Homo sapiens: one gene and its partners. The protein of the gene in region 3 purifies or fractionates together with the protein of the main gene of each other region. This does not show direct contact. Each region holds a gene or a part of one and is shown on either strand. Other genes may lie near its edges. The genes, in order: DNAJC12, FLNC and ERI2.

Region 1 (8,118 bases), on a different chromosome or scaffold from region 3:
GTGATAAGTAAAATTAGAATATCAAATTGTTTTGAAATTATAACAGCTAAAATGCTTTCGGGCATGATGAGTTCTGGTTAATTTTAGAGCATCAAATGAAGGAATACCTGAAGTAAAGGCAATCTATCCAATACAAATCAAGTAAAGGAAATGTCATATTAGTCAAAAATGTCATAAAAATATTTTTGAAATGAGAAGCATACCTATAAAAAGAAGAGAAAAGCCAGGTGCGGTGGCTCACGTCTGTAATCCCAGTATTTTAGGAGGCCGAGGTAGGCAGATCACGAGGTCAAGAGATGAAGACCATCCTGGCCAACACGGTGAAACCCCGTCTCTACTAAAAATACAAAAATTAGCTAGGCATGGTGGCATGTGCCTGTAGTCCCAGCTACTCAGGAAGCTGAGGAAGGAGAATCACTTGAACCTGGGAGGCGGAGGTTGCAGTGACCTGAGATTGCACCACTGCACTCCAGCCCGGCAACAGAGTGAGACTCCATCTCAAAAAAACAAAAAAAAGAGAGAAAAAATGACACACACACACACACACACACACACACACATATATATAAAGAAGTGACAATATTATGACAAACATTTCATTAAAAATAAATAATTGTTATCTAGATATGATATGCCATTGACAGACCAGTAAAATACATCCAGTAAAAGGAATGTTGAGACAAGGAAGTATGACTCCACCTGGTAACCATATTTTGAATATTACACATTAACAACGAGATTATTTTCTGTAAGGCTGTCCAAAATGAATCCTCCTTCTATGTAGATTGAAAAGACAACAGCATAACTTCAAAAGACTGACTATGCAGCCATAAAAAAGAATGAGTTCATGTCCTTTGCAGGGACATGGATGAAGCTGGAAACCATCATTCTCAGCAAACTAACACAGGAACAGAAAACCAAACACCACATGTTCTCACTCATAAGTGGGAGATGAACAATGAGAGCACATGGACACAGGCAGGGGAACATCACACACCGGGGCCTGTCGGGGGGTGGGGGAGAAGGGGAGGGACAGCATTAGGACAAATACCTAATGTATGCGGGGCTTAAAACCTAGATGATGGGTTGATAGGTGCAGCAAACCACCCTGGCACATGTGTATCTATGTAACAAACCTGCACATTCTGCACAGGGATCCCAGAACTTAAAGTAAAATTGAAAAAAAAAAAAAAGGACTGACTAAATAGGTCACAAGATTATGGAGATATAATGACCCTTACTGTATAAGCTAGCATGTATTTTTTTAAATCCAAATTGTCAGCCTTATCAAGTTAAATTATATTCCTTTGATTTTAAATTATTCCTTCAAAAATTGTTTGATAATAGTATAATTTCAACTGTGAATAACACATGGTAAAAATGGTAATAAGCTTTCTCAATTGCTATAAGCAAATCACCACCAACATAAACAAGAATAACACATTCTTGAGAAGAAATATGCAACTAAAAGACCATTATAAGCTATTCTGGGGGCGGGGCAGTTTTTTTAATTTCAACGTGTCTAAGATAACTTCCTCAGCATGGCAAAAATAGAGATTTTAATCCTTTGTGTCCAGTAATGCATTCTATTCTTAAAACAAAACTAAGCACATTTTATTAATGAACTACTGCCTTTATGAAACAACAATAAATATAAAAACATTTTGCTTTACAATGTTAATTTTACTACTTAGATTTTAATAAAAATAAATAAAATAAAATACATTAATTATAAAACATAAATATATCCTAATAACATGATTTAATAATATATAATTTAATAATGAATATATTTTATATTAATCTCAACATTATTTGAAATATTGAAAAATTGGAAATAAAATATTTAACAATAAGAGAATAATTCAACTGTGGTAACACAGCAAAATAAAATATTTTGCAACCACTAAAAAGTGTACAAGGAAAGTTTAATAGCATGGAAAATTCCTTGTTATAATACGAATGGGTAAAAAGCAGGAATCAACAAGTACATATAATATCCTCCCAAACAGGTCTTTAAAGAATATACATAGAAAGAATAGTGGAGATTAATATGCCAAAATATTAATACTGTTATCCTTGGGAGAGAGAATTATAAATGATTTTTCCATAATTTAAAAAACCTCTACAACCTTTATAATTGTTTATTGAGAACTTTAAAAATTTTGTTTTCTTACAGATCCAGTGAACAGCTACAGAGTTTTCACATGTTTTGTTTCAGAAGCCACCCTTTCAAGAAGTAATTTCTGTCACACAATTTGAAATATTAACATAAAGGGATGCTTCTTTGTTTCTATTTTGACTGCTCACATAGGAGTACACATTTTAATAAAATATATTAAAATCCCTAATTTTATAAGAAATTTCATTTCACCTCAATTATGAGTCACCATAATAAAGGTATAGCTTATATATACTGTGAAACACTGCCATCAGAAATTACAATAAAATTTCAAATATTTATTTTTAATATACTATATTGTGAAACAGCATATGGCCATGTGCCAGAATACACATATTTAATCAGAAGCTTCCGTAAAATTCCCATAGGACACTATTCAAGTAAAATCCCAACATACATTTAAATTCTTAACTTTCTCTGAGCCAAAAGTGCTTTAAAACAACACAAGGTTAGGTTTGTAGGCAATGTGACTAAAAATTCAAAGTTAAAACCTTAAATAAAAACTTGAAATACTATTGTGAAAAAGAATACTGTTGTGATAAAAATATTATCCACTGTCTTACCGAAGATAGTTCATCACATCCCAGTAATGTGTAGTAATCTTCAGTATCTTCTGACCTGTAATTCAGTATTGCATCCATTTAGATGACTTAATCAGTCCTTCTTCCCTCGGAAACAAGAGGCACAGTGAGCTTCGAATTAACAGGAAGAAACTCTTTAAATCTGAATTAGAGCAGCATGTTCCACATAGCAAAAACTAGCTTTAAGACTGGCCACAGTCAATACACCAGATGTCATCCTAGACCTTTGTAAACTCTGCCTCTCATTGGCTGTTTACAGAGAAGAAAAGAACAGTCCACGTGTCTATTATTGCAGTGCTGCCTGGGATCTGTAGTTTGAGTTTATATAAGAGATGCATGTGAACCATTTGTCTTATGAGTTAATAAAGACTGTCTATTTTCAGAAACTTGCCACATTAGCCACTTCTCCATCTCCTATATATTTTTGTCTCTATCCTTTAAAAAAAAAAAAGAAAAAAAATGTGAAGCAATGTGGTAAAATCTTAGGATGTGTTAATAAGGATAATGGGAGCTTTTCTTAGTGTTTAAAATACTTAATTTTATTTTTTATTTGTTTATTTTCAGACAAGGTCTCACTCTGTTGCCCAGGCTGGAGTGCAGTGGTGCAGTCTCAGCTCACTGCAACCTCTGTCTCCCCAGCTCAAGCGATCCTCCCACCTCAGCCTCCCTAGTAGCTGGGACCACAGGCACATAGCACCATGTCCAGCTAATTTTTGGTTTTTGTTTTGTTATGTTTTAAGAGGAGGGGGTTTTGCCATGTTGCCCAGCCTGGTCTCGAACTCGTGAGCTCAAAGCGATCTGCCTGCTTCGGCCTCCCAACGTGCTGGGATTACAGGCATGATCCACAGCGCCCAGCCAATAACACAGTCTTGATTTTTATGGAGCTTACGCTCTGATGGAGGAAGACAGCTGAAAAACATGCAAAAAAAAAAAAAAAAAAAAAAAACACGATCATTTAAAATAGTGATTTGTAAGCCAGGCATGGTGGCCCACACCTGTAGTCCAGCTACTTGGGAGGCTGAGGCAGAAGAATCACTTGGACCCAGGAGGCAGAGGCTGTAGTGAGCCGAGATGGTGCCACTGCACTCCAGACTGCGCTACAGAGCAAGACTCCATCTCAAAAAATAAAAAAATAAAATAGTGATTTGTGCTTTAGAGAAAATAAAATAGGACAATGAGAAGAACTGTATGATAACTCGGGTCAGATGGCTGTGCTATTTCTCCTGGGTTGGTTCTCCAGACTCAGGAGTGTCTCTAGTCTGAGGTAGGTCCAGGCAATTTATGTTTCAGTTCATTTTGGCCCTAAGAAACACAGTTCAGGTCTGGGATTTAGAGAACAAGGTGAGTGGTCAGGGACACAACACTTTGACTGCCTTAACACTTTTTTTGTTTCATTTTTCAGAGAGACAGGGTCTCGCCATATTGCCCAGATTGGTCTTAAACCCCTGGACTCAAGTGATCCTCCCACTTTGGCCTCCCAAAGTGCTGCGATTACAGATGTGAGCCAACATGCCTGGCCCTTAACACTTTAAATTCCCCCACCTGAGGGGAAAAAATAGTTTTTCTTTTAGCCCACCTATATACATCTTTTTAAAGGTTTATTTCTGAAGAGAAGCAAGAAAAAGCACTGAAACACCATTTTTTACTAATCCTTCATTGTACATGCTGTCTTGCTAAAAGTTCTATATAGAATTTTAAGGCCAGGCACGGTGGCTCATGCCATAATCCCAGCACTGGGAGACCGAGGCGGGCGGATCACGAGGTCGGGGGTTCGAGACCAGCCTGACCAATGTGATGAAATCCTGTCTCTACTAAAAATACAAAAATTAGCCAAGCATGGTGGCACGCACCTGTAGTCCCAGCTACTCAGGATGCTGAGGCAGGAGAATTGCTTGAATCTGGGAGGCGGAGGTTGCAGCGAGCCGAGATCGTGCCACTGGACTCCAGCCTGGGTGACAGAGCCAGGGTCCATCTCAAAAAAAAAAAAAAAAATTAGATCACAATATCTTGATCTAAATCACTGATAAATGGCCTTTTAATGATGTGAAGTTGCCATGGTGGAAAGCAGTATGGTGGTTCCTCAAAAAATTAAACATAGAACTACCATGTGACCCCACAATTCCACTTCTGGGTAAATACACAAAAGAATTGAAAGCAGGAACTTGAAAAGATATTTATATACTCATGTTCATCAAGGCATTAGTCATAATAGCCAAAAAGTGGAGGCAATGCAAGTGTCCATCAACGGATGACTAAACAAATGGAATGTTAGGGCTGGGCATGGTGGCTCACACCTGTAATCCCAGAACTTTGGGAGGCCGAGGCAGGCAGATCACTTGAGGCCAGGAGTTCGAAACCAGCCTGGCCAACATGGCAAAACTTCATCTCTACTGAAAATACAAAAAAGTTAGCTGGGTGTGGTGGCACATGCCTGTAATTTCAGCTACTTGGGAGGCTGAGGCACGAGAATTGCTTGAACCCAGGAGGTGGAGGCTGCAATGAGCTGAGATCACACCACTGCACTCCAGCCTGGGTGACAGAGCACGACCTTGTCTAACACAAACAAACAAAAAAGTGTGGTATTGGCCAGTTGCAGTGGCTTATGCCTGTAATCCCAGCACTTTGAGAGACCAAGGCAGGAGGATTGTTTGAGCCCAGGAGTTCAAAACCAGCCTGCGCAACATAGTGAGACTCTGTCCTTATTTTTATATTAATAATATAATTTTTTTTTTGAGACAGAGTTTCACTCTTGTTGCCCAGGCTGGAGTGCAATGGTGTGATCTTGGCTCACCGCAACCTCCACCTGGGTTCAAGTGATTCTCCTGCCTCAGCCTCCTGAGTAGCTGGGATTACAGGCATGTGCCACCATGCCCGACTAATTTTGAATTTTTAGTAGAGATGGGGTTTCTCCATGTTGGTCAGGCTGGTTTCAAATTCCAGACTTCAGGTGATCCACCCGCCGTGGCCTCCCAAAGTGCTGGGATTAGAGGGGTGAGCCACTGTACCCGGCTTAAAAGTTTTTAAAGTGTGTGGTATCTTCCCCCTGGCTCTCTTACTCCTGTTCTCACCATGTAACATGTCTACTCCCACTTCACCTTCTGCCATAAGTAAAAGCTCCCTGAAGCCTACCCAGAAGCTGAACGGATGCTGGCTCCATGCTTCCACATTCTGCAGAACTGTGAGCCAATTAAACGTCTTTTCAGTATAAATTACCAAGTCTTAGGTATTCCTTCATAGCAATGCAAGAATGGCCTGACACAAAAAATTGGTACCAAAGAGTGGGGCCTTGCTATAAAGATACCTGACAAAGTGGGAGCAGCTTTGAAACTGGGTAATGGGCAGAGGCTGGAAGACTTTGGAGGGCTCACAAGAAGACAGGAAGATGAGGGAAAGTTTGGAACTCCTGCAAGACTGGTTAAATGGTTGTGACCAAAATGCTGACGGTGATATGGACAGTGAAGTCCAGGCTAATGAGGTCTCAGATGGAAATGAGGAACTTATTGAGAACTGGAATAAAGGTCACTCTTGTTATGCCTTACCAAGGAACAAAGCTATATGGTATTCATGCCCTAGGAATCTGTGGAAGTTTGAACTTAAGAGTGATGACTTAGGGTATCTGGCAGAAGAAATTTCTAGGCAGCAAAGTGTTCAAGAAGTGACCTGGCTGCTTCTAACAGCCTATCCTCAGATGCAGAAGCAAAGAAATGACTTAAAGTTGGAACTTATATTTAAAGGGAAAGCAGAATGTAAAAGTTTGGAAAATTTGCAACCTAGCCATGTGGTAGAAAACAAAAACCCATTTTCAGGGCAAGAATCTAAGCAGACTGCAGAGCAACCACTTGCTAAAGAGATTTGCATAAATGAAAGGGAGCCAGGTCAGAGGCTGATAGACAAGACAATGAGAAAAAAACCTCAAAGGCATTTCAGAGATCTAAGAGGCAGCCCCTCTCATCACAGGCCTAGAGGCCCAGGAGAAAAGAATGATTTAGGGGGCCAGGCTCAGGGTGCTGCTGCCCTGTACCACTATGGGAGGCTGCTTCCTGCATCCAGCCACTTCAGCCCCAGCCTCAGCTCAAAGGGGCCCAGGTACAGCTCAGGCCACAGCTCAGAAGGGTGCAGGCTGTAAGCCTTGGGTGGCTTCCATGTGGTGTTAAGCCTGCAGGTGTTCAGAATGCAAGAGTGAAGGAGGTTTGGCAGCTTCCTCCTAGATTTCAGAGAATATATAAGAAAGCCTGGGTACCCAAGAAGAAGCCTACCACAGGGACAGAGCCCTCACCAAGAGCCTCTACTAGGGCAGTGCAGAGGGGAAATGGGAGGTTGGAACTTTAACATAGTTTGGAAAGTCTCCCTGCCTGAATCTCATGTTGAATTGTAATCCTCAGTATTGGAGGTAAGGCCTGGTGGGAAGTGATCAGATCATGGGACTGGATTTCTCATGAATGGTTGAGCACCATCCTCTTGATGCTGTCCTCACAAAAATGAGTGACTTCTCTGAGATCTGGCTGTTCAAAAGTGTGTATCACTTCACTCTCTGTCTCTCTTGCTCCTGCTCCCACCATAGGAGATGCCTGCTCCCCCTTCACCTTCTGCTGTGATTGCAAGCTTCCTGAGGTATCCCCAAAAGCAGATGCCTGTGTTATGCTCCCTGTGCAGCCTGCAGAACCATAAGCCAATTAAATCTCTTTTCTTTATAAATTACCCAGTCCCAGGTATGTCTTTTCTTTTCTTTTCTTTTTTTTGAGACAGAGTCTCACTCTGTCGCCCATGCTGGAGTGCAATGGCACAATGTCAGCTCACTGCAACCTCTGCCTCCTGGGTTCGAGCAATTCTCTGCCTCAGCCTCCTGAGTAGCTGGGATTACAGGCGCCTGCCACCACACCTGGCTAATTTTTTGTATTTTTTAGTAGAGATGGGATTTCACCATCTTGGCCAGGCTGGTCTTGAACTCCTGACCTCGTGATCCACCCACCTTGGCCTCCCAAAGTGCTGGACTACAGGCATGAGCCACTGCACCCGGACTTAGGTATTTCTTTTTTCTTTTTTTTTTTTTTTGTGATGGAGTCTTGCTCTGTCACCCAGACTGGAGTGCGACGGCGCAGTCTTGGCTCACTGCAACCTCCACCCCCCGGGTTCAAGCGATTCTTCTGCCTCAGCCTCTCAAGTAGCTGGGACTACAGGCACAAGCAACCATGCCCAGCTAATTTTTGTATTTTTAGTAGGGACAAGGTTTCACCATACTGACCAGTCTGGTTTCAAACTCCTGACCTTGTGATCCGCCTGCCTCAGCCTCCCAAAGTGCTGGGATTACAGACATGAGCCACTGCACCTGGCCAGGTATTTCTTTATAAAAATGTG
Region 2 (7,731 bases), on a different chromosome or scaffold from region 3:
CCCCATTCAGCTACTCCCTCATCCTCACTCACTGGTCTTATGAAGCTGATGGGGGGATGTTATCTCTCAGGGGAGCGGGCACCGGGGGCCTTGGCCTAGCCATCGAGGGTCCCTCGGAAGCCAAGATGTCCTGCAAGGACAACAAGGATGGTAGCTGCACCGTGGAGTACATCCCCTTCACTCCTGGAGACTATGACGTCAACATCACCTTCGGGGGGCGGCCCATCCCAGGTGTGCAGAGAGAGTGGTCGGGGTCTCAGGGAAGACAAGGGAGGGTGCAGGATGCTCGCCCCACAAGGGGGAAACTGGAAGGAAGTTGGGTAAGAATGTTCATAGAGAGGACAGCCTAGAGTGGGTTGGGGCCGGAGCCCGGCCAGAGGGAGGACGTGGAGGAGGCAGGCAATGAGGGTTGATGTGACAGCCCCCCTAGTCAATCACAGGAACACACTCTGGCCTCCTAGCCCCTTGTCTGGAGCTCAAGACCTTGGCTTTGCAGGTCCACCACTCACTGTGTGTCCAGAAACTCAGACACAGTCCACTCCTCTTGGCGGCTCAGGCCAGCCTTGGGCCTTCTTGCACGCATCGTCTGCAGAACTCCCCTGCCCTCTGCAGACCCAGCTGCCCGGGCAGGTCATGTCTTCAAATATTGTATGACTTGGGACTGCTGAAATTGGAAATTTTTTCCCTTATCTAATTTCCCATCTTTTTATTATTTCAGCCACAGTGTCAGAAATACATTTCATTTTTGAAAACATTTTATTTTCACATTTTATTAATTTAGGAAGGCCTTCTCTTCCAGGCCTGGGACCCACATGAGTGAGGTTTGCCCAGCCTCAGTCTGCAGTCAAGTTCATTTATTCTTGTGTGTGTTTTCTTAGCAAGTTCCTAGCCATTTTCCCATGTTGGTCTGGCTTCCCTGTGGGCATTTCAAAGGCAGGGAAGGCCTCCTCCTCCGAGGCTCCTCAGCATCAGGGGGACCCATCAGGGCTGGTGGGCAGGGTCTAATGTCCTTCTCCTCACAGGGAGCCCGTTCCGCGTGCCAGTGAAGGATGTGGTGGACCCTGGGAAGGTGAAGTGCTCAGGGCCAGGGCTGGGGGCTGGTGTCAGGGCCCGGGTTCCTCAGACCTTCACAGTGGATTGCAGTCAAGCTGGCCGGGCGCCCCTGCAGGTGGCTGTGCTGGGCCCCACAGGTATAGAATGGCCGGGGCAGGGAGGAGGGAGGTGGGGCGGGACGCCCGGAGGCTCTGCTGACCCTGTGCCCCTTGCCCAGGTGTGGCCGAGCCTGTGGAGGTGCGGGACAATGGAGATGGCACCCACACTGTCCACTACACCCCAGCCACTGACGGGCCCTACACGGTAGCCGTCAAGTATGCTGACCAGGAGGTGCCACGCAGGTGAGGACCAGCCCTGGGCTCCTGTGCTGCGGCTGAGCTCTGGGGTGCTCCTGCTGGGGTGGCACTCAGGATCACTGCTGGAGTCCCCTGGGAGAGCCTCTCCCAGCTCTCAGCCTCGTCCAGTCTCGCCACCCCATCCCGCTCTTCCCCGGGGCTCTCTGCTGTGAGGCTTTCCTGCCCCAGGAGCTTTTACGGCAAACCTAGCGCCTTAGGAAGAGTGCAGGAGGCCTGGGCCAGGGCCTCCTCCTGGACCCTCCCACAGCACCTTCCTGGGGAATGGAGACGTACCCTGGCTCTGTCGAGGGAGTCCCAGAGTGCCCCCACCCCCAGACATGGAATGTCATCGGCTTCTGGGAACTGGTCCCTCCTCCCTGCCCCACAGTCCTCCCTCCTGCCCATGTCTATGGGGAGGACTCTGGCTCAAGATGAGATCACCCCCCACCGCCCCGTCCATGCCACCCAGCCAACTGTTTATCCCTTCTGCTCCTCAAGCCCCTTCAAGATCAAGGTCCTCCCAGCTCATGATGCCAGCAAGGTGCGGGCCAGCGGCCCAGGCCTCAACGCCTCTGGCATCCCTGCCAGCCTGCCTGTGGAGTTCACCATCGACGCACGGGACGCGGGCGAGGGGTTGCTCACTGTCCAGATCTTGGTGAGTCTCTGTGCATCCCACCCCGCAGGTCATGCTCCAGGCACAGGCGGGCCTTGACCTCTGCTTCTCCCTCAGGACCCCGAGGGTAAGCCCAAGAAGGCCAACATCCGGGACAATGGGGATGGCACGTACACTGTGTCCTACCTGCCGGACATGAGTGGCCGGTACACCATCACCATCAAGTATGGCGGTGATGAGATCCCCTACTCGCCCTTCCGCATCCATGCTCTGCCCACTGGGGATGCCAGCAAGTGCCTCGTCACAGGTGGGTGCCCACCCGCTGCCCGTGCCCTGCTCACCACCCAGCCCCTCAAAGCCCCTCCAGAACCCTGGCCTGGTCCCCAGGGGTCTGCTGGTCGGAGAGCACACATGCCCTAGCCCTGGCCCCTCCCTCCCTCACCCCCGCCCAATGCCCCAGCCCACGTTGAGCACCGCCTGGCCTCACACTCTTCTCTCTTTCCAGTGTCCATTGGAGGCCATGGCCTGGGTGAGTGCCCTTTCTCTCCTCTTCTTGGTGTGGGCCAGGGTGGTTGGCGGTAGGGGGCGGGCAGCGGGAACAGAGAGGGCTGGCTCCAGCCCACCAGCTCCCTGAGCAGGATCTCCCGCATGGCAGGTGCCTGCCTGGGCCCTCGAATCCAGATTGGGCAGGAGACGGTGATCACGGTGGATGCCAAGGCAGCCGGTGAGGGGAAGGTGACATGCACGGTGTCCACGCCGGATGGGGCAGAGCTCGATGTGGATGTGGTTGAGAACCATGACGGTACCTTTGACATCTACTACACAGCGCCCGAGCCGGGCAAGTACGTCATCACCATCCGCTTCGGGGGTGAGCACATCCCCAACAGCCCCTTCCACGTGCTGGTAAGTTCTGTAGCCACAGCAAGACTAGATGGCTGGGGAGGGGGGCCTGGCCCTTTTAGCAGCAGCAGGGATCCCAGATAACTGTCCCCAAGGAATCCCACTTCTCTGAGGGCTCCTGGGGCCAGAGTGCTCCAGGATGGAGCCTTAACTTTCCCCACAGCACCCCCGAAGTGGGAGGAGAGCATGGCCCTGCCCCCTGCCCAGTGCTGTCAGCTGTCTCTGGAGGAACCCGCTGTGCTCTCCACCATCCCCAGCTCCATCTCCCCAGAGGCTGCCCTGCAGGAGGATGAACACCCAAATTATCACCCAGCATTTCAGGTTCCTGGGCCATTCTCTGAGTCAGCCCCTAGGCCTGTGAGGCTGCCACACCCTGTGCCCCCGTGCCTTGCCTCCCCAGGCGTGTGACCCCCTGCCGCACGAGGAGGAGCCCTCTGAAGTGCCACAGCTGCGCCAGCCCTACGCTCCTCCCCGGCCCGGCGCCCGCCCCACACACTGGGTACTGCGCCTCCCACCAGGCGATGTCCTCCTCCTCCTCCCCTTCCTTCATTTCTTCTCTCTACTCCTCTGCAGCCAGGGCGGGGACATGGTCTGGGGGCCTCTTGGGGAGCAGGCAAGAGTTAGGCTGGGCAGATGGAACCCCACTTGGGCACAGCACTCCTTCTCTTGCAGCTGACGCACCTCTCCTGCCACGCTGGTTTCATGATTAACTACCTTGTTCTTTCCTCACTCTCCAGCTTCAGTCATAGCATGGGTCAAACTCCTGGGCCTTCCCCAGTCACTGACTGTTCCCTCTCACCTGCTGCAGGCCACAGAGGAGCCAGTGGTGCCTGTGGAGCCAATGGAGTCCATGCTGAGGCCCTTCAACCTGGTCATCCCCTTCGCGGTGCAGAAAGGGGAGCTCACAGGTACTGCCCTGTGGCTCCCAGGCATGAGGGCTGAGGGGAGAAACCCTCTTCCAGGCCCAGTCCTGTGTCTTAATGATGAAAACAAAGGCCCAGAGAGAGGAAGTGAGCTCTACCCAGGGTCACACAGCAAGTTGGGCAGAGCCAGAACTCAGGTGCAAGCCATCTGTCCCCAGTTCAGGGCTCAGGCCACTGCCACAGGCTGTCTCTTGATGCCTGGCTTCTCGGGTGGCAGCAGAAGCACTCAGGACCAGGCCTGGGACAGCAGGGAGGTTGCAGTGGGGGAAACCAGGGTCTCCACGTAACTGTGTCTGCCCTGCAGGAGAGGTGCGGATGCCCTCGGGGAAGACGGCACGGCCCAACATCACCGACAACAAGGACGGCACCATCACGGTGAGGTATGCACCCACTGAGAAAGGCCTGCACCAGATGGGGATCAAGTATGACGGCAACCACATCCCTGGTGAGTTAGGGGCTGGGCTGGGCTGGGGCTTGGGTGAGAGGAGCAGGCCGTAGCTTCAGTCCTGCCTTCCCTCTTTCAACAAATATTTATTGAGCACCCGCTGTGTGCAGACACCAGGCGAGGCCCCAGGGAGGCTTATACCCTGGTGGGAAGCAGACCTCCACCAGCTGGGTCCCTACGGCACAGACGGAGGGGGTTGGCAGGGAGGCTGCTGGAAGGTGCTGGGGCCAAGGTGGGCTCAGATAATCCCTGATGCTGACCCAGCCCCCTTTTTCTCTGTATCCCCAGGGAGCCCCTTACAGTTCTATGTGGATGCCATCAACAGCCGCCATGTCAGTGCCTATGGGCCAGGCCTGAGCCATGGCATGGTCAACAAGCCAGCCACCTTCACTATTGTCACCAAAGATGCTGGAGAAGGTGAGGGAGCTGCAGGTCGCAGGCTGGGGTGGAGACTCACCAGGGGCAGGGGTGAGGGCAGGACCTCTGATCTTGGCCACACCTCCACCTACAGGGGGTCTGTCACTGGCCGTGGAGGGCCCATCCAAGGCAGAGATCACCTGTAAGGACAACAAGGATGGCACCTGCACCGTGTCCTATCTGCCGACTGCGCCTGGAGACTACAGCATCATCGTGCGCTTCGATGACAAGCACATCCCGGGGAGCCCCTTCACAGCCAAGATCACAGGTGAGGCGGGTGTATGGGCATGTACAGCCCATGAGGCACACACACCGCATACAGTGCACTCATGTGCAAGCCCAGCCCGTTCAAGTCACTCGTGACATTAGGGCAGAGGCCCTTCAAGGTGTGAGGGGTCATATTTTGATAAATGTAAAAACACTCTGTTCTCCACGGCAGCTAAGAAGCAGTCAGCCACTCCTTGTGCCTGAAAACACATTGCCTCATTTAGTCTTTGAAGTCATTTGTTTTGTTTTTGTTTTTGAGAGGGAGTCTTGCTCTGTCACCCAGGCTGGAGTACAGTGGCACGATCTCGGCTCACTGCAACCTCCGCCTCCCGGGTTCATGCCATTCTTCTGCCTCAGCCTCCCAAGTAGCTGGGACTCCAGGCGCCCGCCACCATGCCTGGCTATTTTTTGTATTTTTAGTAGAGACAGGGTTTCACCGTGTTAGCCAGGATGGTCTCGATCTCCTGACCTTGTGATCCACCTGCCTCGGCCTCCCAAAGTGCTGGGATTACAGGTGTGAGCCACCACGCCCAGCATGAAGTCACTCTTAAGAAGTTAGGGCACGGATAATCCTTTTGATAGATAAGGAACCCCTGTCCCAGAGAGGCCAAGCAACATGATTACAGCCACACAGCGAGGAAGGGGTCTGGGCGGTCCAGTCTAGTGTTTTGTTATCACAACATCATGTGACTCAGGGTTAAAATGCAGGAGGTTTCCTTTAGGGATTTAGCCCACAAGGACTGAGGCAGCCACAGTGGAATTGGGGTACAGGCCCCTCTTAGTCTCTGGCAGCTCACATGTGAGTGCAGACTGCACTTTCCAGGCCTTGGGCCTCCGTGCACCTGGGAGTGGCCCCCCGTGTCTGTTGAGTCCAGGGGGGGCTGCTCAGGAGGGTTCCTGAGCCCTGTGAGGGCAGGGCCTGCCTGGAGTCATAGCAGCCTGATGCCCCAACTCCCCCACCAGGTGATGACTCCATGAGGACCTCACAGCTGAATGTGGGCACCTCCACGGACGTGTCACTGAAGATCACCGAGAGTGATCTGAGCCAGCTGACCGCCAGCATCCGTGCCCCCTCGGGCAACGAGGAGCCCTGCCTGCTGAAGCGCCTGCCCAACCGGCACATTGGTGAGCGTGGGGCCTCACGGGGACCTCAGGGGTGGGGGCCCACAGGATGCTCTGCCTAACACCCACTTTCCACAGGGATCTCCTTCACCCCCAAGGAGGTCGGGGAGCACGTGGTGAGCGTGCGCAAGAGTGGCAAGCATGTCACCAACAGCCCCTTCAAGATCCTGGTGGGGCCATCTGAGATCGGGGACGCCAGCAAGGTGCGGGTCTGGGGCAAGGGGCTTTCCGAGGGACACACATTCCAGGTGGCAGAGTTCATCGTGGACACTCGCAATGCAGGTACCTCCTGCCCCAGAGAGCCCCCATTCCAGCGGGTGCCTCCCACAGGCACTTGTCCTCGTCCTGCCCAGCACCCCCTTGGCCGCACTCTCTCCTCCCTGAAACTTCCTGACCAGTCTGCGTCAGGATTCGCATTCTGGGGCCCCTTGCGGGAAAGTGAATGGCCCCGCATCAGTTCTCTCCCTTTTAAGAGAAAGCTCAGCTGTCCTGAGTTTCTGTCCCTCCCTTGCTCACTGGAATCCAAGAGGCTTACCTTAGGGAATTTTCCAGACCGCCTGTCCCGTGGTGCCCCCGCTCCTCCCACTGAGCCATTTTTGTTAGTGGTCACTACACACATCGGTGCCCATTCTGGGTGGAGCCTGCAGTCTGGGGAGAGGAAAGCATTGTGGCTTGGCCAGCCTAGGACTGAGGGAGATGTGTTCCTTGCTTTCCCCCAGGTTATGGGGGCTTGGGGCTGAGTATTGAAGGCCCAAGCAAGGTGGACATCAACTGTGAGGACATGGAGGACGGGACATGCAAAGTCACCTACTGCCCCACCGAGCCCGGCACCTACATCATCAACATCAAGTTTGCTGACAAGCACGTGCCTGGTAAGGCTCTGGGCAGAGGTCGGTGGCGAGAGACAGGGAGGCCAGGAGGCTGGGGCTCTGAGGTTCCTGACCCACCCTTTGTCCCCACTTCAGGAAGCCCCTTCACTGTGAAGGTGACCGGCGAGGGCCGCATGAAGGAGAGCATCACCCGGCGGAGACAGGCACCTTCCATCGCCACCATCGGCAGCACCTGTGACCTCAACCTCAAGATCCCAGGTAGAAGCCTGGAGGACCCTGGGTGGGGCGGGTGGTGGGAGAGGGCTGGCCCGGGCCAGAGCCCACCTGTCGGGCCTCCACCCTGCTTCCTCACCCCTCGCTTCCCTCCCTCACCCTGGCTCCCTTGACCACACAGGAAACTGGTTCCAGATGGTGTCTGCCCAGGAGCGCCTGACACGCACCTTCACACGCAGCAGCCACACCTACACCCGCACGGAGCGCACGGAGATCAGCAAGACGCGGGGCGGGGAGACAAAGCGCGAGGTGCGGGTGGAGGAGTCCACCCAGGTCGGCGGGGACCCCTTCCCTGCTGTGTTTGGGGACTTCCTGGGCCGGGAGCGCCTGGGATCCTTCGGCAGCATCACCCGGCAGCAGGAGGGTGAGCACCGCACACTGGGCCGGCCGGGTCCTCACGGCGGGATGGGAGGGTGCTGCGGACCAGGCTTGATGCTGGCAGACTGGCCCCGAAGGCCAGGGCAGGTCTGAGCAGAGGAGGAGGTTTAACTGATGGGGGAGGGAAGGGCCAGGGCTAGGAGGAATCCCAGTGTTGCCCTGACATCCCCCAAAC
Region 3 (8,363 bases):
GAAGGAAGGGAGGGCAGTGAGTCCTGACATCAGATGTCAGAAACTATTTAGGGTAAGGAGGGCATCAATGCTGAGGGACAGTAGTGGCCTGTTGCAGGGTTTAAAGCCTGAACAGGATGAGGGTATAAACCTGAGAGGGATGGTGGCAGCCACCTGTCATAGGATGAGGGTGCTCACAAAGGAAGATGACCTGGTACAAGGTGATGGAGCCAGTGCAGGGTGACAGAGCCTAAGCAGAGTCAAGAGGGTGTGAGGGTGGGTCAGCGGCAGCAATAAGGATTGATCAAATATACTGAAGATGTTGGGTGTCGGGTTTCTCATTGTTAGTGAAGGAAGTTACAAATATGAAAATGGACTGGGCGCGGTGGTTCACGCCTGTAATCCCAACACTTTGCGAAGCCGAGGTGGGCAGATCACTTGAGGTCATGAATTTGAGACCAGCCAACATGGTCAAACGCCATCTCCACTAAATGTACAAAAATTAGCCAGGCGTGGTGGTGGGTGCCTGTAATCCCAGCTACTCAGGAGGCTGAGGTAGGAGAATCGCTGGGAGGGAGAGGTTGCAATGAGCAGAGATCATGCCACTGCACTCCAGCCTGGGTGACAGGGCAAGACTTTTGTCTCAAAAGAAAAAAAAAAAGGAGAAAACTAGAATGAATAGAATGAACCCTGTATTACTGGATTTGGATTAAAGTGGAGATACTGATGTGAATTCACATAAGTAAAATACAGAAAAATATTTAAATGTAAGTATGTGTGTGTGTATACACTTTCAACTTACAAAATTTTCAATTTACGATGGATTTATTGGGACGTAATCTTATTTTAAGTGAAGAAGCATCTGTATTAACATCACCATAGCACCCAAATCTAAATATCATTCTACACTAAAAAGAACCAGGTACCCTAAGAGAAATGACTGATTCCAGGCTTGGGGCAGGGAAAGCACATATGAGCCTGGAATATCTTCTTGTGCCAGAAAGTAATGACATGCTCAAAGAATGATGTTGTCATGTCAAAAGGCCACAGAAGCTAGCTTAATGACAAAATCTTGGATATTTAAAGCATCACAATCCAGTAAAAGATAGTAACACACTGAACAAAATAGGTACCACTGAGTTCATCATACTGATAAAAAAGTAAATGCATAAGCCCAAAGTGTTTGAGGAAGCACATTACAGACAGCTGGGAGCAGTGGCTTGGGCCTGTAACCTCAGCTACACTGAGGCTGAGGTGGGAGGATTGCTTTAGCCCAGGAATTCCAGACTAGCCTGGGCAATATAGCAAGATCCTGTCTCAAAAAAATAAGAATGAAAATTACACAGAGAAAAAGATAACTTTAGAGAACTTTAGTAGAAACTATCTTAATCTAGTTATCAAGGTTAATATCACCAATAATGGGACAAATCAAATTGTGTACAATCTGCAAGGGAGCAGAGTATCACTCCTGTGATATTCCTGCTAAAGATGTATATAACCTGAATCTAATCAATGAAGAAACAGACAAATCTAATTTAAGGGACATTCAACAAAATAATTGGCCCAGGATTATTCAAATGCAGTAAAGTCATGAATATCAAGGGAAGACTAAGGAACTGTTTGATGGAGACATGACAATTAAATTTAACACAATTCTAGACTGGATCTTATTGCTAAAAAGCGTTATTCAAACAACTACAGAAAATTTGGATGGCATCTGAGGAGTAGATGGTCATGATATATCCATGGTAATTTCCAATTTTGATGGTTGCATTGTGATTATGTAGGTTTATAGAGAATATATAATAAAATATCTTGAGGGTGGGTAGAAAAAGACCATTGTGTCAGCAACTACTTTCAAATGTTGGTTGAGGGGAGGTTTTGATACTATTCTTACAACTTTTCTAAAAGTTTGAGATTGTTTCAACATAACAAAATATGTGATTGTCAATCTCCTTACACTAACCACATAAACATTAAACATTTTTTTGCAAATTTGATAGGCAAAAAAACTGGAATCCCACTTTAATAAAAAAAATTTTCAGCTGGGTGCAGTGGCTCACACATGTAATCCCCAGCACTATGGGAGGCTGAGGCAGGTGAATCTCCTGATCCCAGGAGTTGGAGACCCTGTCTCTCTTTAAAAAAAAACAAACGAAAAAAAAACAAAAAAAAGCAGTGGCTCATGCCTGTAATCCCAGAACTTGCAGAGGCCAAGGTGGACAGATCGCTTAAGTCCAGGAGTTCAAGACCAGCCTGGGCAACATGGCAAAACCCCGTCTCTACAAAAAAAAGAAAAATTAGCTGGCACAGTGGCACACATCTGTAGTCCCATCTAATTGGTGGAACTGAGGTGGGAGGATCACTTCAACCTGGGAGGCAAAAGTTGCAGTGAGCCAAATCCAGCCTGGGCAACAGAGGGAGACTCCACCTCAAAAAAAAAAAAAAAAAAAAAAATCACATCCCTAATCCCTCTCTCACATATTATAACTTATTTTTATCATTTGTCTCTGCCCACTAGAATATAAGACCTACTAGGGCAGTGAACTTGATTCACTGATGTACCCCAAGCACCTAGGTCAGTGCCCCAGCACATGGCAGACAATAAAAACCAATGAATAGCTGGGTGCAGTGGCTCATGCCTGTAAGAGGCAGAGACAGGAGGATCCTTGTCACACCACTGTAGTCCAGCCTGAGTCCAGCAGAGCAGAGACCCTGTCTCAAACACAAAAACAAACAAAAAAGCCCAATGAACGACTGAAGGGATGAATGAAGTATATTTAGTTCTCAGTAAATGGTAAGGATGATAGGGATAATCAGCCTTTTTATTCCCCTATTGCAGCGGTCCCCAACCGTTGGCACCAGGGACCGGTTTCGTGTTAGATAATCTTTCCACTGACTGGGAGAAGGGCTGGGGGGATGGTTTCGGGGTGATTCAAGTGCATTACATTTATCATTAGAGTCTCATAAGCAGCATGCCACCTAGGACCCTCGTATGCAAAGTTCACAATAGGGCTCACAATAGGTTTGGCACATTCCTATGAGAATCTAATGCCTAGGTGGAGCTCAGGGGGTAACGTTCTATCGGCCACCGCTCACCTCCTGCTGCTTTGTGGCCCGGTTCCTAACAGGCCAGCTGTGGACAGTGGGTTGGGGACCCCATGGACAGGCAGGTACTAGTCTGTGCACAGGGGGTTGGGGACCCCCGCCCTACTGGAATGTAAACTGCACGAGGGCAAGGAATTGTATTTTTGTGCCCCAGGATATCGATGAACATTCCTATTATGTACAGGCAGTTTTTTTTTTGTTTTGTTTTTTGTTTTTTTTTTTTAAGAGATGGGGTCCTTGCTATATTGCCCAGGCTGGTCTTGAATTCCTGGCCTCAAATGATGCTCCCGCCTTGGCCTCCCAAACTGCTGGGATTACAGGCGTGAGCCACTGCACCCGGCCCACCATCCCAGTTTTTTTTTTTTTTTTTTTTTTTCTGAGACGTGATTTCTTTCTTGTTGTCCAGGGTGGAGTGTAATGGCGTGGTCTTGGCTCATTGCAACCTCTGGTTCCTGGGTTCTAGCGATTCTCCTGCCTCAGCCTCCCAAGTAGGTGGGATTACAGTCACCCACTACCACGCCTGGCTAATTTTGTGTGTGTGTTTTTGGTAGAGACGGGGATTTCTCCATGTTGACAAGGCTGGTCTCGAACTCCTGACCTCGTGATCCGCCCGCCTCGGCCTCCCAAAGTGCTGGAATTACAGGCATGAGCCACCGCACTCGGCCGACTCACTATCCCAGTGACAGCCAATGACAGCCTTGTTGCAGGAAGGTGGTATTACACTCATTCCCATTTTAATGATCAGGGATCAGGTTCGGAGAGGCCAGGGCGGAGAGCCCGCCCGAATCCAGTGCCCCCGACGGCGGTTGGGCGAGGGTCCGGGAGCTCCAAACCGCCTAGGGCCGCCTGCTCGGGATCCCCGTTGCTCACCTTGGCCTCGGGCTGACTCTCCTCGAGATCCCAACCGGCTTTCATCGCCTCAGCTGCCCCGACCAGCTTATTTGGGGCCTGCCTGCTTTCCCTGACCTTCCTGGGGTGTCTCTCGGTCCCTTCCCTCTCTGGCTCCATGGCTGTGGAGAAAGATGAGGTAGAGCTGGGGAAACTCCAGCGCCCCTATTCCCCCGCGTGCCGCCTCCTAGCGGGAGAGCTACACGGGCTTGACAGCTTTCAACCTCCCTCGGATCCGCTTCTCAATTCAGTTTACCGAACTATCCCCGTTCCCCTAAAAAAGCGAAGGTGCCAACGATCTCCCCGTTCCGCGGACTGGACACCCGCGCCGCTCTAACCCAAACGGCTTTACCGTCCGCATCGGTTACCGGATTCTCAACGGTTCCCCAACGGCTACAACGGGCGTCTGCCTGGCAAAGAAGGAAGGTGCTGCCGAGCGGCTTCGCCGCCTAAAACCACTCCCCACGCCCCCTAGCCCGGGAAACGCAGAAGAGAAGACGGGCGGGGAGCAGAGGTTCTCCCCTCCTTAGCCACAGCTGCCAACAACAACCGCCCCTCAGCCTCGCGGGCTTTTTGAACGGACCGGAAGTAGAAGTCGAGCGACTTCCGGCAGCTGGACTTGGAAAAGCAAGGAGTGTCGGGAATGGCGACCAAGCGGCTCGCGCGGTACTCGAGGGAGTTCCGGGTCGGGGGCGGGTAGCTCCGGGTCCAGCGCTGGCGTTGGCCGCAGAGCAGGGCACGGCAGGTGGCATCTGCGGTGAGGGCCTCTATTCCCCGCAGCCCCGGCGTCTGCGACCTGCCCTCTCTGGCACGGTTGGAAAGGCGCCTCCCTGGACCTCGGTCTTCAGCCTTGGGCCACCTTCTACCCGAGGGTGACAGGAGCCCGAGGCGGACGAACCCTGGGGCCTTGACTGTGTGGCCTTGAGCCAGTGCCTGCCTATTTTAGGCCTTGGGAAACGACTGGACGTGACAGTGCCCTGCAGACTGGTTGGAGGTCTCAGGCAGGCCACACACTGAATCTGTCAAGGTGTTCAACCTGTTCGAAATGCTCGTTCCTCGGTGCTGTAAAGAAATAGAACTTAAACTTAAATTTAATTTATTTAGTAAGGCCATTTTTACTTCCTGCAGAAAGGGTACACTCGCCAGCAGTTTTGCCAGGAGAGTACACTGAACAAAGGAGACAGGGTCATTTATAACGTGGCGCGTCCACCCTACTGCTGTGTCCGGTTTCCTTTGGCTGGAACGGGACCTCACATTCTGTATTTGTCCCGACTGACTAGCAACATAGAACTTTTTAAAAGAGGCAAAGGCAGAGGAGAACAAAGGAAGAAGGAAGTAACTTGTGGAATGCTGAGAAAGGTAAAAACACTTTTAAGTAAGGAAGAGGAACAGGCTATGACCTAATGTTTGATTGGACCAGTATAAGCATGCCAGGGCAAATATTTAGGCTAAATTGTGGGAGCTAAGAACATAAAGTACATTGATTTCTTTATTATATCTAGCAGATATTTAAGAATGTTAGCACAGGTCTTTGAATAAATTTTGCTCTAAGAGAAGTTACTATTTATTCCTAATTAGACGGGGAAGGAAGTCTTTGAAGAGGAACCTCTACTTTTTACAAACCCATTTTCTAGTGATCTTTTTTTTTTTTTTTGAGACGGAGTTTTGTTGCCTAGGCTAGAGTGCAGTGGTGCGATCTCGGCTTACCATAACCTCTGCCTCCCGGGTTCAAGTCATTCTCCTGCCTCAGCCTCCCAAGTAGCTGGGATTACAGGCATGCACCACCACACCCAGCTAATTTTGTATTTTTAGTAGAAATGGGGTTTCTCTATGTTGGTCAGACTGTTCTCGAACTCCCGACCTCAGGTGATCCACCCGCCTCAACCTCCCAAAGTGCTGGGGTTACAGGTGTGAGCCACGGTGCCTGGCCTAGTGATCCTTTTAATTCACAATATGAATTATTGTGTCCTCCCTGATTCCTGGATGCGCTGTGCATATTTCTGATTACTAGAAAGATGTAATATAATAGCAAATAGCATGAGCTTCAGAATTGGACAGTCTTGGGTTCACATACCAAAGCTATGTTCTTTGGCAAATTAAGAATCAGTTTTCTCATCCATAAAATATAGGTAGGAAAAGTTTCTAGCTACTACACTTGTTGAGGATTAAAGGAGGCCATCATCTTAGTTTAATTTTAGTACCTGCTATGTAGTAAGCAGTCAATAAATGATATTTATTATTCCCAAATCCTGGCACTTCCCACTCTTAGCAAACACAGAAAACTACAGGAGGTGTCTGCCTAGTTAAAACTCTACCTGCTAATACCAAGTAGTTTGTTTTACTTGCACTTAAGACCTCAGTAAGCTCTTCTCTTTTTTTCTTATTTTATTTTATTTATTTATTTTTTTGAGACAGGGTCTCGCTCTGTTGCCCATGCTGGAGTGCAGTGGCATGATCTCGGCTCACTGCAGTCTCCACCTCCCGGGCTCAAGCAATCCTCCCACCTTAGCCTCCTGAGTAGTTGGGACTACAGGTATGCACCATCACGCCCCAGCTAGGTTTTATAATTTTTGTAGAGACGGGGTTTCACCATGTTGCTCAGGCTGGTCTCGAACTCCGGAGCTCAAGCAATCCACCTGCCTTGGCCTCCCAAAGTGCTGGGATTACAGGCATGAGCCACTTTACCTGGCCCTATCTTTTGTTTCTTTACCCAGATTTTTAAACTGGAAGACTGAACCATGTCCTACATTGTCTTGTCTTCTTAAAACTGCACTGTACACATAGCAAGAGCTTAAAAAATGCAGGGGGAAAAATAAGATTTTCAGTGCATTTTTACCTCTACAATCAAATGATTGTAGGAACTCAAATGAGTTACTCAGTATTACTGTAAAACAAGGGTAACATAAAATTAGTGTAAATTGGCTGGACACAGTGGCTCAGGCCTGTAATCCCAGCACTTTGAGGGGCTGAGGTGGGAGGATTGCTGGAGCTCAGGAGTTCGAGATGAGCCTGGGTAACATAGTGAGGCCCTGCCTTCAAAAAAAAAAAAAAATTAAAACTAATGGGCCGTGGTGGCATGCATCTGTAGTCTTAGTCAGGAGACTGTGGTGGGAGGATTGCTTGAGCCCAGGAGATTAAGGCTGTAGTGAGTGGTGATCATACCACTGCACTGCAACCTACGTGACAGAGCAAGACCCTGTCTCAAAAACAAAACCAACAAATTAGCCTAATTTGCAAATATGTACTTTCGAGGCCTGTGCAGGTAAAGCCAAAGTCCAGTTCGATTTCCCCTCAGTCACAATAAATAATGAGATTGTTGCCCAGTACCATTAGTTTGGTAGCCTACTCAAACAGGAGTGTGAATGAGTTCATTGATCATATTTGGATTGCTTCACATTTTTAGGCAGCTTGGATTAATTAGGAGAAAGTCAATTGCGCCAGCAAATGGAAATCTCGGAAGAAGCAAATCCAGTGAGTAGTATGCTTAGTTTCTTTGCATTTTGTAGCCTTGCATTTTCAGCACTGGTAAAGCATAAGAACAACTTGATCTTTTGCAGAGCAGTTGTTTGACTACTTAATTGTCATTGATTTTGAATCGACATGCTGGAATGATGGGAAGCACCACCATAGCCAGGAAATAAGTAAGTCTGGGCTACGAATGGCCAAAGCTGGCACTAGATGAGTCACTTTAAAGTTTATAGATCTGAATCAGCCAAAAGTTTAAGAAAACAGGATGGTCTATGCATTGGTAGTTTAATGCAAAACTTATGTTGAATAAAAAAGAGCAAAATCTCAAATACCTAAATGTGTTATTATATAAAATAGTTGTTTTATATTACATACAACACCTCAATGGCATAGAAACTGAAAAAAATGCCTTTGCAAAAAAAGTAAATTTTATATTCCATATGGTTTTTATATTTATTTAATTATATTGTTTTCTTTTAAGACAACATGCTCATAACTTCAATATTTTGACTTTAGCATAACTTTATTATAACCTTTATGTCACACTGCTTTGGTCATTTTAGTATGCTTTTACTGAAAACTGGTTGTTTAATTAAAATGGTAACATGTTTAATTTAGGATGATTACAGGATTAATTTAAAAATTATTTATTCAACTGTCAATTGATTATTCTTTCATTTAGTTGAGTTTCCAGCAGTGTTGCTGAACACATCAACTGGACAGATTGACTCTGAGTTCCAGGCTTATGTTCAACCTCAGGAACATCCAATTCTTTCAGAATTTTGCATGGAATTGACAGGCATAAAGCAGGTATGATGCAAATCTTAAAATTCAGAAGTCAGTTTCAAAAAGAAAATAAAAGTTATTATACCATTTGAAATTAGATTTATTTAGTGTTAGGCATGATGGCTTATGCCTGT

The links.
Region 1: the proteins of ERI2 (region 3) and DNAJC12 purify together in Homo sapiens (affinity purification with mass spectrometry; 3 studies listed by BioGRID and IntAct, with this or other methods). This does not show direct contact.
Region 2: the proteins of ERI2 (region 3) and FLNC purify together in Homo sapiens (affinity purification with mass spectrometry; 2 studies listed by BioGRID and IntAct, with this or other methods). This does not show direct contact.

What each region holds. Positions count from the first base shown.
Region 1 is NC_000010.11:67,835,189-67,843,306, forward strand, and holds the start of DNAJC12 (dnaJ homolog subfamily C member 12), read right to left. Parts: upstream 3,001-8,118; 5' UTR 2,824-3,000; coding exon 2,746-2,823; intron 1-2,745. UniProt on the Homo sapiens protein: Probable co-chaperone that participates in the proper folding of biopterin-dependent aromatic amino acid hydroxylases, which include phenylalanine-4-hydroxylase (PAH), tyrosine 3-monooxygenase (TH) and peripheral and neuronal tryptophan hydroxylases (TPH1 and TPH2).
Region 2 is NC_000007.14:128,846,675-128,854,405, forward strand, and holds part of FLNC (filamin-C), read left to right. Parts: intron 1-70; coding exon 71-231; intron 232-1,022; coding exon 1,023-1,190; intron 1,191-1,270; coding exon 1,271-1,394; intron 1,395-1,886; coding exon 1,887-2,043; intron 2,044-2,118; coding exon 2,119-2,308; intron 2,309-2,506; coding exon 2,507-2,530; intron 2,531-2,656; coding exon 2,657-2,904; intron 2,905-3,301; coding exon 3,302-3,400; intron 3,401-3,487; exon of another isoform or gene 3,488-3,709; coding exon 3,710-3,809; intron 3,810-4,128; coding exon 4,129-4,269; intron 4,270-4,557; coding exon 4,558-4,686; intron 4,687-4,726; exon of another isoform or gene 4,727-4,780; coding exon 4,781-4,954; intron 4,955-5,916; coding exon 5,917-6,078; intron 6,079-6,153; coding exon 6,154-6,357; intron 6,358-6,610; exon of another isoform or gene 6,611-6,723; intron 6,724-6,794; coding exon 6,795-6,947; intron 6,948-7,040; coding exon 7,041-7,163; intron 7,164-7,299; coding exon 7,300-7,542; intron 7,543-7,731.
Region 3 is NC_000016.10:20,802,686-20,811,048, reverse strand, and holds the start of ERI2 (ERI1 exoribonuclease 2), read left to right. Parts: upstream 1-4,576; 5' UTR 4,577-4,618; coding exon 4,619-4,641; intron 4,642-7,378; coding exon 7,379-7,446; intron 7,447-7,532; coding exon 7,533-7,616; intron 7,617-8,125; coding exon 8,126-8,253; intron 8,254-8,363. Other genes in the region: REXO5 (RNA exonuclease 5), read right to left, coding at 3,958-4,095.